Linked DNA regions of Homo sapiens: region 2 is linked to region 1. The links come from fine-mapping of genetic effects on gene expression. A gene starts in region 1. The other region holds a variant in brackets. All regions are shown on one strand. Distances are from middle to middle.

What was found. PIP is the estimated chance that this variant, and not a neighbour inherited with it, causes the effect.
Region 2: its variant is fine-mapped to the expression of DNAJC3 in whole blood (INTERVAL, PIP above 0.99).

Annotation. Positions count from the first base shown.
Region 1 is chr13:95,671,890-95,680,629 of GRCh38, reverse strand. It overlaps DNAJC3 (DnaJ heat shock protein family (Hsp40) member C3), which reads right to left and starts at 3,491. Exons shown (of 12, transcript NM_006260.5): 1 at 3,293-3,491. The coding sequence starts at 3,374. It overlaps DNAJC3-DT (DNAJC3 divergent transcript), which reads left to right and starts at 3,705. Exons shown (of 2, transcript NR_132117.1): 1 at 3,705-4,778; 2 at 5,962-7,795. RefSeq lists silencers at 3,111-3,200, 3,431-3,670 and enhancers at 3,311-3,360, 2,707-3,553, 4,191-4,290, 3,554-4,401.
Region 2 is chr13:95,754,780-95,763,519 of GRCh38, reverse strand. It overlaps DNAJC3 (DnaJ heat shock protein family (Hsp40) member C3), which reads right to left. Exons shown (of 12, transcript NM_006260.5): 5 at 5,724-5,876; 6 at 3,299-3,480; 7 at 2,722-2,841. Among named protein-coding and RNA genes, the nearest start is that of DNAJC3, 82 kb to the right of the region's middle. The variant TG/G (reference allele first, on the strand shown) is at 4,902.

The sequences.
Region 1 (8,740 bases):
GTCAAGAGAACTGGAACTTTGATACTACTGCTAACTACAGCCTATCTTATTAAAGAATTTAAAATAATTCTAGAAAATATGTGACCACCTTTTATGATACTTAATTTATTTAAATTACTTAAAGTCACTCATTTTTGCTACTTTATTCTTTCCCTATTTAGATAATGTCAAGAAAATCCTAGAAAAGACAAAACATACCTTTAATAGGTTAGGTTCAAATAAAACTTATCATGGTTCAAATAAAACTTATCACAATATTTTATACGTATAGATTTTCAACTATATATTTTCAACTATTCTTTTCCCCATGGCCAAAATATATGGTTTAATCAGCTCAATGAAATAAAGAAAAATTGGGTCCAGATAGCATGTTAAGGAAGAAAAAGAGATAAAACTATGATAAGAGAAAAAAGGTTTCGTTCCCAGGCTGTGTTGCTACTCAAGTCACCAAGAGGACAAACCATTAGCAAAGAAATGAAATAACTTCCTTATCTGTAACATGAGAATACTAAAGCAGATACTACTAAAGTTTTCTTTCTATTCCAAAAATTCGATCTCATCTAGTGCTTTAGACTTCACTCTTTCAAACGCCTTTGAGAAGGGAGGGTGCCAAAAGACTCAAACTTTCAATTCATGATATATACTTTCTGTCTCTGGATGACAATTAACAGAAAAATCTAGAAGAAAACAAAGGCAAATATTTCAAAATCAGAAAAACACTAGGTTATCTCTTCCCCATCCTGTGCCACTCTTAGTTCCACATTCACTTCTCTCATAACCATTCTCCTTCATTTCTTTTTTTAAAAGTGAATTGTATTGTATATATTTGATGTTTACAACATAGTATTATGAGATATACACACATAAAATGGTTACAATAGTGAAGCAGATTAATAAGAGTGAAGCAGATTAATATATCTATCATCTCACATAATTACTTTTTGTGTGACAAGAGCAGCTAAAACCTACCTATTTAACAAAAATCCTTAATACAACACAATTTTATTAAGCCTCAGGCCTAGCAGTAGCACCATTTGCCTTTCAGAGAACTATGAGATTAGTGAATCCAGACACAATTTATTTGGGAAAACAGGGGCTAACGGTTTGCTAATTCAAGTCAGAGTTCTTACCTTTATATCCCTATCACCAAATCCAGTGTCAAATACATAGCAGACACCTAATTTAACTCCTCTATATAATTTATTACACCAGTGGTTCTCAAGTGTGGTCATCCAGGGTCTTTCTAGAAACGCAAAATTTCAGGTCCCATCAAGACCTAATGAATCAAACTCTGTAAGTGGGGTACAGCACTCTGTTTTAAAAAGCCCTCCATGTGCGATTCTGATGCACACTCAAGTTTGAGAACCACTGTATTAAACCTCCCAGGAAATAACCTTCTTGTTAATTACAAAAAAAAAAAAAAAAAAAAAGTGCTGATTTTTTTTCTCAGCTGCCATCACTTAAAAGTGCTTGGACTCACATGATGTTGTCAACTACTTAACTTCTGTCTCCAGCGTGCACACAAAATGAACTTTAGTAAAACCTTTGGAGCCTCAGTTCCCTGGTCTGTAAAGTAGGAATGAATACCACACGCTTTCGTGAATAAGATATGGCTTACAGAAAGGCTCCTTTCTTTCCTTTTTCTGTTACCTGTACTAAGTCCCTGCTATTTTACACAGACAATGGTCCTAAAGAAGACACTCTGGCACTCCTCTGAGAAATGTCACCAGTGCCTCCTACACAGAAAAGCTCTCAAATGTGGTTTTCTTATGGAAAATACCACAGGAGGGAAATGAAGAGTTAAGAGTCCTTACAGACTCATATACAGAACAGCAATTCTAAAAAGTAGTGGGAAAAGCAATCATTCAAAATTGTGCATCTCTGTAACTTAAAAAAAAAAATCACCATTAAACAGAACATAGGCAACTTTCTCTTAAGTGTCCAAAATAAATTATTAATGATAACTGGAGATAAATACTACAGATGAGGGATGGTGGGGTGCGGGGGCAGGAGGAATGAAGCTTTTGAAAATGCAAAAGAACTAGAATATATGACCCATATTAAAGTGGTACAGACCTTCAAATTCCAATCCCCTAGATTTTTCTGGGGGCAGCCTCACTGTCAAATTCTTTGTCCCAATGTTGCCACACTACGTGTTCTGATTTGGGGTTCAAAAAATATGGTTACCAGGGGAAGCAAAAGCAAAAGCCCATTGCTATGGGTGACACCTAAAAACTGGGGAGTACTACTTTAAAAAAAAAAGTTGAGAACTTTCAGAAGAATTCACTATAAACAATTCCCAATTTTTAGTTCCTCGCTCCCTTTGAATGGAATACTCAAAGGTTTAATTTGACCTCCTTGACAACTAGCCCTTTTTATGGGGATGAAAATAGATCAGTGCATGTGATGTGTCATTACACTCGAATATTTCGCACAGTAACCGCGCCAGAAGCATTCGTTAAATCGGCACTATCAACTTTAATTCTTACTCCTCCCCGCTGCCATCTAAGATAGGACAGCCCTCTATTTTCGCTATTCTGGAGTAGCCAACATTCCAGTCTGCAGGACTGAAGTGAAATTTAATCGTTCGTATCTTTTTAAGGGAACCTTTTTACAGCGAACTTGGAAAAGTAATGCCAGCCATACGTTGAATGACACCATGTTGGGAGTTGTAAAACCACAAACTCAGTGCCTGGCCGTCCGGGAGATGGAATTCCAACAGCGGCTCCTCATTGCACCAAACTAACAATTTCTCTACACGACAGTGCATCTTAATGGGGATGGTTACACACTTTTTAAATAGTCAACACTGTCCCCTCCAACTCCCAGCCGGACATGACACTCCTTCCCCACCCAAGAACTCCAGAGCGAAGGAAGTCTTTTGGCCACCTTAGTGCCTCCTCCCAGCCAGCACCAATGACTGACAGTGTCCCCAGGCGCCCAGCGAGGGTCCCAAGCGAGGCCAGGACCCAAAGGCTGCCCAAGTCTCCGCGTCCCAGGACTTCCTGAAGTCGTAGCCCGGTGCCCCCGCACCCCGCCTCCTCCGACTCCTGCGGCCCGGTTCCTTAGTCCAAACCCGCTGTCCCGGCCCCGCGGCCCGCCAGTCCCCTCGATTCTTCCCCAGACAAACCCGGAACCGGGCGCGGGCTCAGGCCCAAGCCAGGCCGCGGGCTCCCCCAGCGCTCGCCCCACCTCCCGAGCCGCTCCGGGACAGGCGCCCGGGCGCAGACGGGAAAGCGCGGGGGGCCTGGTCCGGGAGCCCACTTCCTGGCCGGGGCAGGGCAGGACTCACCTTCGTACTGCAGATCCACCAGGACTAGCAGGAAGGGGAATACCGAGCCCAGCCGGCTGGTCACGGAGCCGGGGGCCACCATGTCCGAGGGCTCGCGAGTGAAGAGGAGGAAAGGTGTGTGGCCCACCAGCACGCGCCGGCGCTCCGGCAGCAGCTGCGCCCGCCCGCCGTCGGCTCTCGCTCAGGCCTCAGTGGCTCTGGAGCCCAGCAGAGGAAGGCAGCGGTGGGCGGGGCCCGGGCGACGCTACGCCCCAGAGCGCCGCCGCCATCCAATCGCCTTCTTTCTGGCGGCTTTCCTCCCGGGCTCGCCGGGGTCGTGGTTCGCGCTGATAGGCTGCGGAGGCCGCCGCCCCGCCCCGTCCCTGATAGGATAACGTGGAAGCACGAGACGAGGCTGCGCCCGCCGGTCGCAGAGCTGTCAGCAAGCTCCAAACCGCGGCTGCCGCCCGGAGGGAAGCAGACGGGGAGTCGGTGGCGGCCGCCGAGTCCGCATGCGCAGGCTGCAAAGGCCCTTTTGGGCCGGTCCCGCCGCGCTAGGTTGGCGAGTGGGACTATTTGATCCTTTCCAGGTTCGCCAGCGTGGTGTTACGAGAGGAAAGCGCAGCCGCAGCGTACGAATGGGAAGGCCAAACACGGTCCCGGGGAGTCTGAGGGAAGCTGCAGGGCGCCTGGAATTGGGGTCTCGAGTGAGCCGGTAAAAACCGCCTCCCGCTGAGCGTCCCGGAACAAATACTGTCTGAACTGAGCCGTAAGCAAGAAACGGTCAGGAGAAGCTGGGGCGATCTGATGATTAGAACATTTCAGGGACTACCAGAGAGAAGTGCGTAATTGCTCTAAGGCAGGTAGGTAATTGGCCTGGAAACTTGGGAACGCCCCGCCCCCCACCCCGACTTTCAGCAAACCACCGTGCCCAGGAAAAAGAGCGATTGTGGAAGACCCTGTGAAGAAGAGACCAGGAAGGCACTGTGGCTTAAGAGAGCAAGGCGTTCCTGAATGCAGCCAACATCAACTGGTAAACAAAAAACTGTGAGAACGGATCCTGAATCTTGCGCTTACCAGGGGAAATTCAGGAGAGATATGAACCTGAGCAAGATGAGGTTGAAGTTACTCAATGCGGCATTAAGCCTGTTCACGGCCACTTCCTCCGGCGTCACCAACACACACACTGTACACCAGCAGTATTTTTACACGGGGTATGTGTGTTAAGTACTATCAGGTGGATAATTATTACTTCACCTGTATTTGCTGCCTTGATACCATTAGAGAAACTCATGAATTATAAATAGCATAGTGAATTTGTGATTCCCTGAAGATATACTAAGGTGGACTTTTAAAAAGGCTTCTATTCCAAAGGGAACTAATATGGAGGAAATGGTTTCGAGAAAGAAAAAAGAAAAAACGGAGTCCTTGATTAGTTGTGGGGAAGGCAACATAATGTAATGTGAAGAATAAAGGAGTCAGATCCAGGAAACCCCATAACTATTATGTAAGTTATCTTCATCTGTAAAGTGGTTAGGATCCTGATAGTCTCAAAGGTTTGTTTTGAGGTTTCATGAAGCAGATAAATATTCTTGTAAATTGTAGAATGTTATACCAGTGTTACTCATTATTCTAACAAGAGCAGAGTAGTGAAGAGAGGCTCCTTCAGAAATTCCTTGGGATTTTTTTTTTTTTGGCTTCTGTTTTTTTATATCACAAGGTAGTGTCTCTGAAAAATGGTAGATGATTTCAATGTCCACAAATATGCAGGTGTAGACATTCAATTGAGGTACTGTACCCAAGGCAGCCAGCAAAATGCTGAACATAGAAAATAACTTTGTAAACAAAATGCAATATTTCTAGACAGTGAGTTATCACCAGTGTGCTGCCTATGACCCTGGCCTTAAGGAAAAAGTAGCAGAGCTGAAGAAGTTCTAAGGATGGAAATTAAAAATTATTAAGGAGATAATAGACTTCGTGTTATAGGAAATAAAAATAGCAAGGGTCTTCAATGGTGAGTGATTTTGAGATTAATTACATAACTATGAATTCTGTAATATTAGAACTAAGCTTTACAAAGCATTCCTTAAAAAAAGATAATTTTACAACAAAGGTAACATTAGACAGAAAAAAATGTACAAAACTAAAATTAAGTGATTAATGCTTGGGAATGTTTCCTCCAATGTTCATCTAGTCATGGTTTTCACGAATCACTCTTGCCAATAAAACCGAAAATCAAAGTAATCTAGTGAGTGTAAGAAAAGTTACTGTAAATATGTTTGCATTCGTCAGACTCTATGGAGTCTTTTTGAAGTTAAACATTAAATCTCCACTGTAATTCATACTGTTAATTATAGTAGCAAAAGACTTAAAAAACAATGGTAGCATATTTATGATATATCCAAAATTAAGAGTATTATGCAATTTTTATTAGGTTGATCTATGTTTATTGACTAGGAAAAACAATGTTGGTAGAGAGGAGTGAACAGATCTAGAACATATTTTGTAGGTAAAGGGAATAAGATTTGTTTAGGAATTAACTATGAGGAGAAATAAATGTTCAGAAACAAGTAGAGCACTTATAAACACCTTTTTGTGCCAAATTAAGAACAAAAAAGTCAGCATTAAGTTAATGCCACCATATACATCCTTCCACATTTATGTTTACAAACTTGTGCTTTTATTTCTAGGAAACATTTCTAGGCTGGGCGCAGTGGCTCACACCTGTAATGCTAGCGCTTTGGGAAGCCAAGATGGGAGGATTATTTGAGGCCGGGAGTTTGCGACCAGCCTGAGCAACATAGCAGGATCCTGTCTCTGCAAAAAAATTTAAAACTAGCCAGGTGCGGTGGCTCGTGCCTGTTGCCCTAGCTACTCAGGGAGACTGAGGCAGAGGATTGCTTCAACCCAGGAGTTTGAGGTTGCAGTGAGCTAAGATCATGTCACTGCACTCCAGACTGAGCAACAGAGTGACACTTTATAAAAAAAAAAAAAAAAAAAACTAGGTTTTTGAACTTGCTTAATCAAAGAATTTGTTTAAACTTTTAAGATGCGTTGTCAGATTATCTTTCCCTAAAGGAATAATTTCTATTCCTATCAGCTGTTTATATTCCTGCCTAGTCACCATCACTAGATATAATTGATTTTCAGTTTTTGCCAATCTGAGGAACAAAAAATGACCCTTATATGTCAAATTTACAGTTTATTTTCAAGGATTTTGGGATTCTGATCAAATTTTGGTACCTTCATATAAAATTTGGCTTTTATATCACATCTTGTCTTCTCTGCTTTCCACCCTCTTTTATGTTGTTTTTTGGCTTCTGGCCGCATGACTATAATCTCCGCTTTTGTATTCACATCACCTTCTGTCATTTTTGACCTTGCCTCCGTCTTACAAGGATCCTTGTAATTAATTATATTGGGCCTGCTGAGATAATCCAGGATATTCTTCCTACTCAAGTTCCTCAATTTAATCACATCTGCAAAAACTGCCTTTTGCTATAGAACAATGACAGGAGATTAGAATGTAAACATATTTGGGGGACCGTTATTCAGCTTAACACAATACGTCCCCCTTCATCAGGTGGAGCTTATTTTCCCTCCTTCCTTGAGTGTGGGCTGGACTTAGTGACTAACTTCCAAAGAACAGAGTATGGAAAGGGAGGAGGAGAGTAACTTCATAGTACAGAAACCTGGAAACACTGTCTTGGCCAGGTGGTCAAAGTTAATATCATCAAGTCATGTTGATAGCATATACTCCCAATATACTGTGATGAGAAGGGCAATTCACCTCTGTGGTATTCTCAAAACCTATAACCCAATCTAGTCTAAACATGAAAAAAAAAAAATCAAACTAAAATTGAAGGACATTCTATAAAACACCTGATCAGTATTCCTCAAAACTATCAACGTCGTGGGGAACAAGGAAAGATTGAAATACTGTAACAGACCAGAGGAAACTAAGGAAACTTAATTGATGACTGAATGCAGTGTGCTGTGTTGAACTGGATCCTAGAGAAAATAGACATTAGTGGAAAAACTACTGAAATATGAATAGTCTCAAGTTTAATAGTAGTGTACCATTATTACTTTCTTAGTTTTGACAAATGTACCATGGTTATGCAAGATGCTAACAATACAGAAAAATAAGGGGTATTTGGGACCTCCCTGTATTATCCTTATGCCCTTACTTGAAAGTTGTTTCAGCAATAGAAGTTTATTTAAAATATTGTGAAGGGCCTGAGTATTTTTAAATCAACTGCAGTGACTCTCTTTTGTGTATTTGTGTACAGATGAGTTTTTCTGCATCGAATTTTATCTCCTTTCCTTGCAGAAGAAAGAGAATTAGCCCTTTACAGAGATAACAGTTGCCTAAGCCAGCTCTTTTCTCCTCTTTTTGATGTTCTTCTTTTTCTCTCAGTTTGAAAATTGTAGGTTATTTGAGTTTTTAAAATGTCTATTGCTACATACACATTCTAGTTATATTCTAGTCCAAACAATCTAGTAAAATATCTAAAAGAAAAATGCTGTTCACTGTATTTTTTATTTTTAAAATGTGAGTGAGTGCATTTAAATAATAGGTTGTGTTATTATAATTATGAGCTAAAAGTTTTGAAGTGTGATTTAAAGAGTCTTTAACATTACAATTCTGGACTACAAAGTGTAAAAATTGTATTTTAAAAGATTCATGTACTGTTTCCGATAAATAGATGAATCTTTGATCACTGGAATGTGTTAATACTAATTTAAAGGCAGCTATATATCTTCTGATTTTATAAGAAATTAACTAAGTACAATATTATATTTTATATACAATGGGTAAACTCTTCAAAATTTAAGCTTTCTAATTTCTAAATTAAGTGACATAATGACATGTCTTTAAATAGGTTTGATCTTATAAAATTTTTGTAATAACACAAATATAAGAACTTATTATTTTCCAGATTCTCACATCTAAATCCAAACATATAAACACAATTGCATTAAATATAAATGTTATAAACACAATAATTAAACGACATAATCAAAATGGATTTTGAAAATAACATGAGGAAGACAGAGCAAGATAGCCAAATAGAAGCCTCCACCGATCATCATCCCCACAGGAACACCAACTTTGACAACTATTTACACAAAAAAAGCACCTTCATAAGAACCAAAAATCAGGCGAACAATCACAGTACCTGGTTTTAACTGCATATTGCTGACAGAGGCGTTGAAGAGAGTAGGAAAGGCAGTCTTGAATTGCCAACATCACCCCTCCCCTATCCCCTGGCAGTGACTGTGTGGCACTGAGAGAGAATTTGTACATTTGTGGAAGGAGAAAGGACAGTAATTATGGGCCTTTGCCTTGAAACTTAGTGCTGCCAACACCCATGGAGGGAGCATTTAGATCAGCTTTAGCCAGAGGGGAATCGTCCGTTCCAGCAGTCAGAACTTCAGTTTTGGCAAACCTCACCACCGTGGGCT
Region 2 (8,740 bases), 83 kb before region 1:
ATTCGGCTTTTCCCTTATTAATCTAGAGTCCCATAGAAGGTACACTCCATAATTAAGAGTTAGGAAATAAAAACATATGACCATAGGAGATGCAGATGGACAGAACAAAGCATACCTGTGAGTATAAGTACCAATCAAACCAGAAGAATTTCCTTACAGAAACATTGCTCAGAATTCCAAACCTGAGTAAAACACCCTGTTGAAGTCTGACTTACACTGAGCACCTTGAACAATACAGAGATCAAGTTTTATTTCTTGGTCAGTAAACACTTCCATGAAAATAATGGAACCCATTACGTGCCATTTTATATAATTAATGTCAGTATTTACAACAAAGTACAACGTAGTTCACACAAAAGGTACCTGATTAAATTCCCAACTGTATAAGCTTTCTAAGAATAAAAGCTATTTCAGCATTTTCTTTAAACCAGTAAAAAGTACTAATCCTGTTATATACTCAGTTATTTCCCTCAACAATAGTAAAGTAAAAAATATGTTTCTATGCCATGGTGGCACACTATTCCCAAAGTGCTACAATCTTCATATGTAAATATGCCAATGTATTAAAACACAGGCTTAACTAAAACATTTAAAATAAAAGCCAGCTTCTCTATCATCCTCAGCAAACTAACGCAGGAACAGAAAACAAAGCACTGCATATTCTCACTCATAAGTGGGAGCTGAACAATGAGAACACATGGACACAGGGAGGGGAACATCACACACGGAGGCCTGTGTGGGGCAGGCAGCAAGGGGAGGGAGAGCATCAGGACAAATAGCTAATGCATGTGGGGCTTAATACCTAAGTAATGGGTTGATAGGTGCAGCAAACCACCATGGCACACGTTTACCTATGTAACAAACCTCCACATTCTGCACATACATCCTGGAACTTAAAGAAGAAAACAAAAAAGCCAGCTTCTGGGAAAGTGGAATAGATGTATTTGTCCCAAGTGCTCCAGCTAAGCACAACTAAAAAACCCTAGAGATTATATGTATATTTTTTAAAATAGAAAACTTTCAAAGGAGGAAAAGAGACAGACTAGCTAGTGACTCAGGACCTGAGGAAAACATGGTAAGACGTTCCCTGGGTTCTTTTTTTTTGTTTCATATATCCCAGACTTGGAGCTGAAGATTCCAGCAATGCAGAAACGCCAACAGGTACAGAACGACAATAACAAAAACCTGCAGAAGTCTGCTCTGTCTAGCCAGAGGACCTGAAAAGGACAGACTTGCAAACAGAAAACATTTTTTTTAGAGACGGAGTTTCGCTCTTGTTGCCCAGGCTGGAGTGTAATGGCACAATCTCGGCTCACCGCAACCTCAACTTCCCGGGTTCAAGCGATTCTCCCACCTCAGCCTCCGCAGTAGCTGGGATTACAGGCATGCGCCACCACGCCCGGCTAATTTTGTATTTTTAGTAGAGACAGGGTTTCTCCGTGTTGGTCAGGCTGGTCTCAAACTCCCAACCTCAGGTCCTTCAATGGATAAATGGTTAAACAAACTGCAGTAAATCCATACCATGGAAACTACTCAACAGTAAACAAGGAGGAATTATTGATACAATATGGATAAATCTCCAGACAATTCGAATGAGGGGGAAAAAAGCCCATCCTGCCAGCTGTGGTAGCATGCATCTGAAGTCCCAGCTACTCAGAAGGCTGAGGCAGAAGGATCACTTGAGTGTACTATGACTGTATCTGTGAACAGGTGGGCAACATAGTGAGATTGTCTCAAAAAAAAAAAAAGCCAATCCCAAAAGTTTATACATTGTATGATTCTATTTATGTAACATTCTTAAAATGACAGAATTCTACAAGTGAATAGATTAGTGGTTGCCACAAGCTAAGGAAGGGATAGGAACAAGAGGGAAGTAGGTGTGGCTATAAGGGCAACATGAGGTGTCCTTGTTGGGATGGAATTATTCTGTATCTTGACTGCACCCACGTCAATATCCTGATTGTGACAATGTACTATAGTTTTGCAAGGCGTTATAGTCTGCAAGATGTTGGGGGAAACCGAGTGAAGCATTCTCATGATGGCAACTTACAAAGCTACTAAAAGTAGAGGAATTGGAGCCTATTTTCTATTAGGCAGTTTTGTCTGCAGTGCCCTCTACTCTTTTCAGTCCTCCTGCCCAGCCTATAAACCCCCTACAAACAACACTCACACAGACACAGCCTCTTACTTCTGTCCACTTTTACTTATTCTTTAGGATTAGGATTTAAATATCTATCACCTTCTCTAAAAAAAAAAGCTCCTCTTTTACTCCTTGCCTTTACCATCCTGGTTTGGAGTAAATACTCCTCTTTGGTACTCCAATTATCCTATGTACATTCTATCACTTTGGTATCATATTGTCTTTTAATAATCAATTCATATATTTGTCTCCCACGCAATGCTATAAACTTCTTAAGAACAAAAACTATTGTCAAGTTTAAGTCTGCACCCTCAGTACATAGCTCAGCCTGATATAGGAGATAATAAATATTTGGTATAGTACAAGTAATTCTGCTGGTAAGGATACTACACAGTTACTATTATTTATATTCTTCCCTATTCCAAAAATGTCCAATTCTGGTAGTTTTGCTAAGGCCCAGGGCTATCTAGAATACCCCACCCTCAATGGCTGAGAAGTAAAAGAGCAGTTCTGTAGTTCACTTGTGCCCACAGCCCCGCACATAAGGAATGGCTGGACAGTTGGAACAACCATATTCTCACCTGCCATCTCTGATGAGCTCTTCAGCTGACTCAATCAGCTTATTAAGTTTCTTTACTTGTTTATAGTGTGCAAAACACCTTTTATGATCCTGGTCAAGTTTAAGACATTCCCGAACTTCACTGTTCATGTATTTAAAAAAGGAAAATACTCCATGTCAAAACAATCAATGAGTAGTTTTCCACAGAAATCACAATAAAAGTATTTTTTGTTTGCAACGATTAAACAAAAACCATACTGAGACTTATAATTTACTATATACATTTATACGTGGCATTGTACCATGCATACATTTGTTAATTCAAATTAAAATGACTTACTAGCATTATATAGTAAACATTCCATTTTGTTTCTATAAATATAAGAGCCTTCCTGTTTAATAAGCAGCTTCATGAAAACAAACTATGTGGAATTAAAGTAACTTGGGAATAACACAAAATATATAAATGGATATACAATATAAAAACAGCCTTAACTACCATCATCTTATTAATTTAATATTAAAATGTTAAAACAAGATGAGGTAATCTTACTGCCAACAATTAAAAAAGATCAGACATGTGTGTCACTAGAACTGACCTGAGGGACAGTTCGTGGTCTCCTAGTTGGTAGTACAGTGTGCTTATTTTATAAAACGCTTCAGTATTATCATTCTTCAACTTTGACGCAGCTTTTAAGTCACTTATAGCTTTCCTAGGTTCTCCTTCTTTTATAAAACATTCAGCTCGAAGTTCCCGTAGTTCTGCATCCCAAACACAAACCTTGAGGAACAAAAGAACTAGACTTTAAGAAAGAATAAATTATGCACATTCATTGTTGCATTCCACGTATTTTTTATCTACGTATTTATCAACATAAAACATTCTCAATTGATGTGATGACTTATATAGTGCAAATATTATTTTAAAATCTGATACAATTTAAATGTGACAAAACTGATGTGACAAAATAGTTTCTCCAAAAATGTTGTAAATGAATTCTAATGGGGGAAGAGATATATATAATAACAAGGCCCTTTTCTTACCTCCTTCGATTATATAATTCTAAGACACTGAAAATAAGAAAACATAGCATTTACTATTGGAGGGTTGTTCCTAGTGAAGCATATTTGAAGAGAATATTCTGTTATCAGATTTTTATACTTAATCAACAATTCTAATTTGTAGTCAAAAAAATAAAACCTAGGTTCTACATTGGCAAAATACTTTTTTCTGCTAATAACCACATTATGTTCTTAGCTGGGCACATTGACTCATGCCTGTAATTCCAGACCAGCTTAGGCAGCAAAGCAAGATCTCATCTCTATAAAAAGTTTAAAATTATTAACTGGGTGTGGTGGAACACACCAGTGGTCCCAGCTACTCAGGAGGCTGAGATGGGAGGATCACTTGAGTCCAGGAGTTCAAGGTTACAGTGAGCTACAATCGCACCACTGCACTCCAGTCTAGGTAACAGAGAGAGACCCAGTCTCTAAACAAAAACCTTTTTTAAGAAATTATCTTCTGTAAATGTCACCGCCTTAAAAGTAAATCCTCATATCAAGAAAAAGAAAGAAAGAAAGAAAAAATACCGTGAGAGGGCAGGAGGTTGAGGCTTCACCATTCCTATTTTATCAAAAAGTCCATAAGGGTTTAGGAAACACAATAGTATTCTTCAAATCATAAACCCAAGAGCTCATCAATAAGGCTGGTGGAAGTATCTTTGCATATTTCTTAGAGCTGCTCTAAAGTCGTATCGACTTTTCACATATACAAAAATATCAAAACCAACATTATACATAAATATCATGGACAATGAACTAAGTTCAAAATGGATAGTCTATGGGAATGTAAAAATGTAAACTATATTTCCTTAAAAAAGCATAAACAAAATAACCCAGTAAAACATGAATTCTACTGGACCATATCACAATATCTTCTGTAAAATTATCAACAAATTGCCCATTCTACATACATCATAAGTTTAGAGCCAAAATTAAATGAAACTGTATATCAAAATACTGTGAAAATCACAAATAAATGTGAATTACGACTGCTTCCATTTGAATATTTCAGTAGACTTCCTTCGGAAATCAGTTGTCATTAAATCCTTCAGAGGCAAGGAAACCTAGACTCAGGTTTCCCTAGCTAGAACTCTCTGGATCCTATCAACCATTATTATTATTAACTTTTTTTTTTTTTTT[TG/G]AGACGGAGTCTCACTCTGTGGCCCAGGCTACAGTGTAGTGGCTCACTGCAACCTCTGCTTCTCAGGTTCGAGCGCCTCAGCCTCCCGAGTAGCTGGGATCACAAGCATGCACACCACACCCAGCTAATTTTCTTTTTTTTTTTTTTAGACACAGGATTTTGCCATGTTGGCCAGGCTAGTCTCAAACTCCTGGCCTCAAGTGATCCACCCACCTCGACCTCCCAAAGTGCTGGGATTACAGGCATGAGCCACCACACCCAGCCAATTATTAATATTTTTAGAGGCAGGGTCCCATTCTGTCGCCCAGGCTGGGGTACAGTGGAGCAATCACAGCTCACTGCAGCGACAAATTCTTGGGCTCAAGTGATCCTCCAGCCTCAGCTCCCAAGTAACTAGGACTACAGGCACATACTATCAACTCTTTATCTGCCTTATTCTCTAGAAATTTTTCTCTAAACATTCCTCTTTCCTCCCGAACATCATTTTTCCTTTTACTCCAACCATCTTTTTCATCTTTTATCCCATTATCTAACCGCTAGAGTTTTCTTCCCAAAAAAATACAAAATCAACTAAAATAGCAAAGCAAGCAATTTATAAACATATTTAACTCTCATGCCACAGCACATTCAGTACATTTACTGAAAACTTCAGTCCAAATTTTGTTGTCTAGGAACACTATTTTATACTTAAGAGGCAAAAGCCCAAGGACCAACCTGATTTTCTCCTGTCTAGGTCTTTGTGGTATGTGACATGTCGAAGTATATAAATGTGCCTTACAATAAGTGTCAGGCTGGTCAACTGCAGTATCTAAGAAACTTACCTCTAAAATCTTATCAAGGAAGGCTATAGCAGCAGTATAATCTCCACTTCCAAAAGCGTTAAGTGCTTGTGAACGCAAACGCTGCATTTCATCAGATTTTATAAGTTGAGACTGTGCTTCCTTTTCTTCATTTTCACTTGGATTAGATTTGAGCTATAAGGAAAATAAAAAACTAAGCAGAGTTTTTAATCTCTTAAATCTGATACCTGTAATATACACAAGGGTAAACCATTCCAAATACTTAAGTTCATTGGGTAAAAAGGGTAAAGAGATACTGGAAAAACTGGCTTGTCTGATGACTGGATGCAGCAGGGAAGGCCCTTGATTTCTACCGATATGGTCCATGAGCATGAACAACAGATCTAGACTCAGAAGACCTGGGTCCCAAAAACTTACCGGGAAGCAAATACATGTAGGCACGTGAAAGGACAGAGAAGAACGGAGGAAGGAAAGCACGTTTTTCACTTTCTTACATATAGCTCTGCAGAATAAATTAACTTGAGTTTTATTTATTTTGCCTTCTACTTATAGTTCCTAAGTATTTTTTTAAGTATAAAATAACCAAAATAATGAAACACATAGGGAAACTGAAAGAAGGGGCCAGCTTTTTTAGAGGTTGTAAGATTTAAAAAAAGATCTGATACCAAAAGGGTTAAAGTACAAGAAAGAATTTAGAAGGAAATAAGAGTAATACCTTACTAAAAGGTGCATGATGTGGCTTTAAGAGATCTGCACACTGCCTCTTTTTAAAATAACTTTATAAAGACATAATTTATATAGCATAAAATTGCTCATTTCAAATGTACAATTCTATGATTTTTTAAAAAATAAATTTACCAAGTTGTGCAGCCATCACCACAGTTTTAGACCATTTCCATCACCCCAGTAAGATCCCTTGTTTTTACTTACAGTTCATCCCCACTCCCAACCCCAGCCCTGTGCACAGGGACTCTTAACAATTTCTTCCTCCAGACAAAAAATAATTATCTCAGAAAACCAGGTAGCTACATTTTTTTAAGCCTGAGGGAGGGGAGGTTAAGATTGTAGTTTATATTTAATAATTTTTGAAATCTTAATATTCTTACTAAGATGCAAACTATAACTAAAGGGTTCCAATTTTGGGTTAGGTACAGACAAGGGAAAGTTAATTCTAGAAATCTCCCTCCTCAATGAGTCAATCATATTCCTCCTTTCAGTGGATTAATTTTTAAAATATACTCCCACTACCAACCTGGTGGGACAGAACACTCCAAATGAGAAACTTTATCAATATTATTTCTTGGTAAGGGTTTTATACTTGTCCATTTTGTGTTTTAGGATATTTTAGCTATTCTATTTTAGCTATTCTATTTTGTCTGTTTTAACCCTTGACTTGTGAAGAACAGGACTTGAAGTACTCATTGGTAACTAGGAATTGGTAACCTCCACTCACTCTGGGGGAGGGTTTCCCGGAATGATTGCATCATCCAGTTTAAGGGTGTTGTTTGGAGTCAGACATGCTTGTCTCTGTCTGTTTTATCATCCTTAGGGTGGTCTTGAATACTTCGGATAAACCCCATCGGAGAGAGTATGAATGTGTGTGCACTGTCACTTTGCTCTGGGTAAAAGTTTATTGATAACGTGTTTCCTATGAGTACACTACTGACCCTCTTAGATAGAATGTATCAAAGACTGACTGCCTCTTCAGGATCGTATTTGCACCTTTTTTTCCTCTCAAACATTGGAGTCTAATTTCTTCCACACAATTTTTCTTGTTGGAAGGTGAGAGGAGAAGCCCTAAATCTCGGGACAGAGGCTGGAGGGCTCAGGTAATGGAAACAGGAAAGAGGGAGTGAGCTCAGGTCATCTAGGCCTCTGTGAGGCCAGAAGAGAGGTGGGGAAGAGGGAGAGAGGATTCTTCCAAGGAAGTAAGAAAGGAGTTGGAGAAACGAGGGGCTTCCTTAGAAGCCTGAGAGTTTCAAAGAGAGTCAAGCCAGATGAAATTAGGGTTTTGGGGGATTTTTTTTTATTCTTTTTTTTTTTTTTTTTTTTTTTTTTTTTGAGACGGCGTCTCGCTCTGTCACCTAGGCTGGAGTGCAGTGGTGCAATCTCAGGTCACTGCAACCTCCGTCTCCTGGGTTCATGCAATTCTCCTGCCTCAGCCTCCTGAGTAGCTGGGACTACAGGCATCCGCCACCATGCCCGGCTAATTTTTGTATTTTTAGTAGAGATGGTGTTTCACCATATTGGCCAGGGTGGTCTCGAACTCCTGACCTTGTGATCCGCCCGCCTCAGCCTCCCAAAGTGCTGGGATTACAGGCGTGAGCCACTGAGCCAGGCCCATTTTTTTATTCTTTAAAGAGACAGGGGACAGGGTCTTGCTCTGTCTCCCAGGCTGGAGTGTAGTGGCATGTTCTTAGCTCACTGCAATCTCCAGCTCCTCAGTTCAAGCAATCCTCCAGCCTCAGCCTCCCAAGTAGCTGCAACTACAGGTGCATGCCACTACAGCCAGCTAATTTTTTATTATTTTTTGTAGAGACAGGGTTGTCTCACTATGTTGCCTAGGCTGGTCTCCAACTCCGGGCCTCAGGTGATCCTCCTGTCTCAGCCTTCCAAAGCACGGGATTACACATATGAGCCACTGTGCCCGTCTGAGATGAAGATTTTTATTATTACCATGAGGCTGTTGACTCCTCTCAATCACCCCCTTGTTTTCTCTACACCTGCATGTAGAGAATGGCCCTTGCTGACAATTCCCTCATTCTTCCCTTTTTCATGTTTCTTGACATCCTTTCTCTTCCTTAGGGCTTTCACATTTCTGACTCTTTCTGCCAAATCCCTTCCTGTAACAATATTTTATATTTTTTACTTCTCACTATGTATCCTGGTCACTGAGCTTCTGGAAAAATAACCCGTAATAGCTACGGGATGGGGGCTTGTTCAAAGAGATGATCTGCCTTCTGTATGACTGCACCTCTACTTCTGGCGCCTCAAATAAAAACACCAGGTTGGCAGTTGTGGTAAGCAGCCTTCTAAGA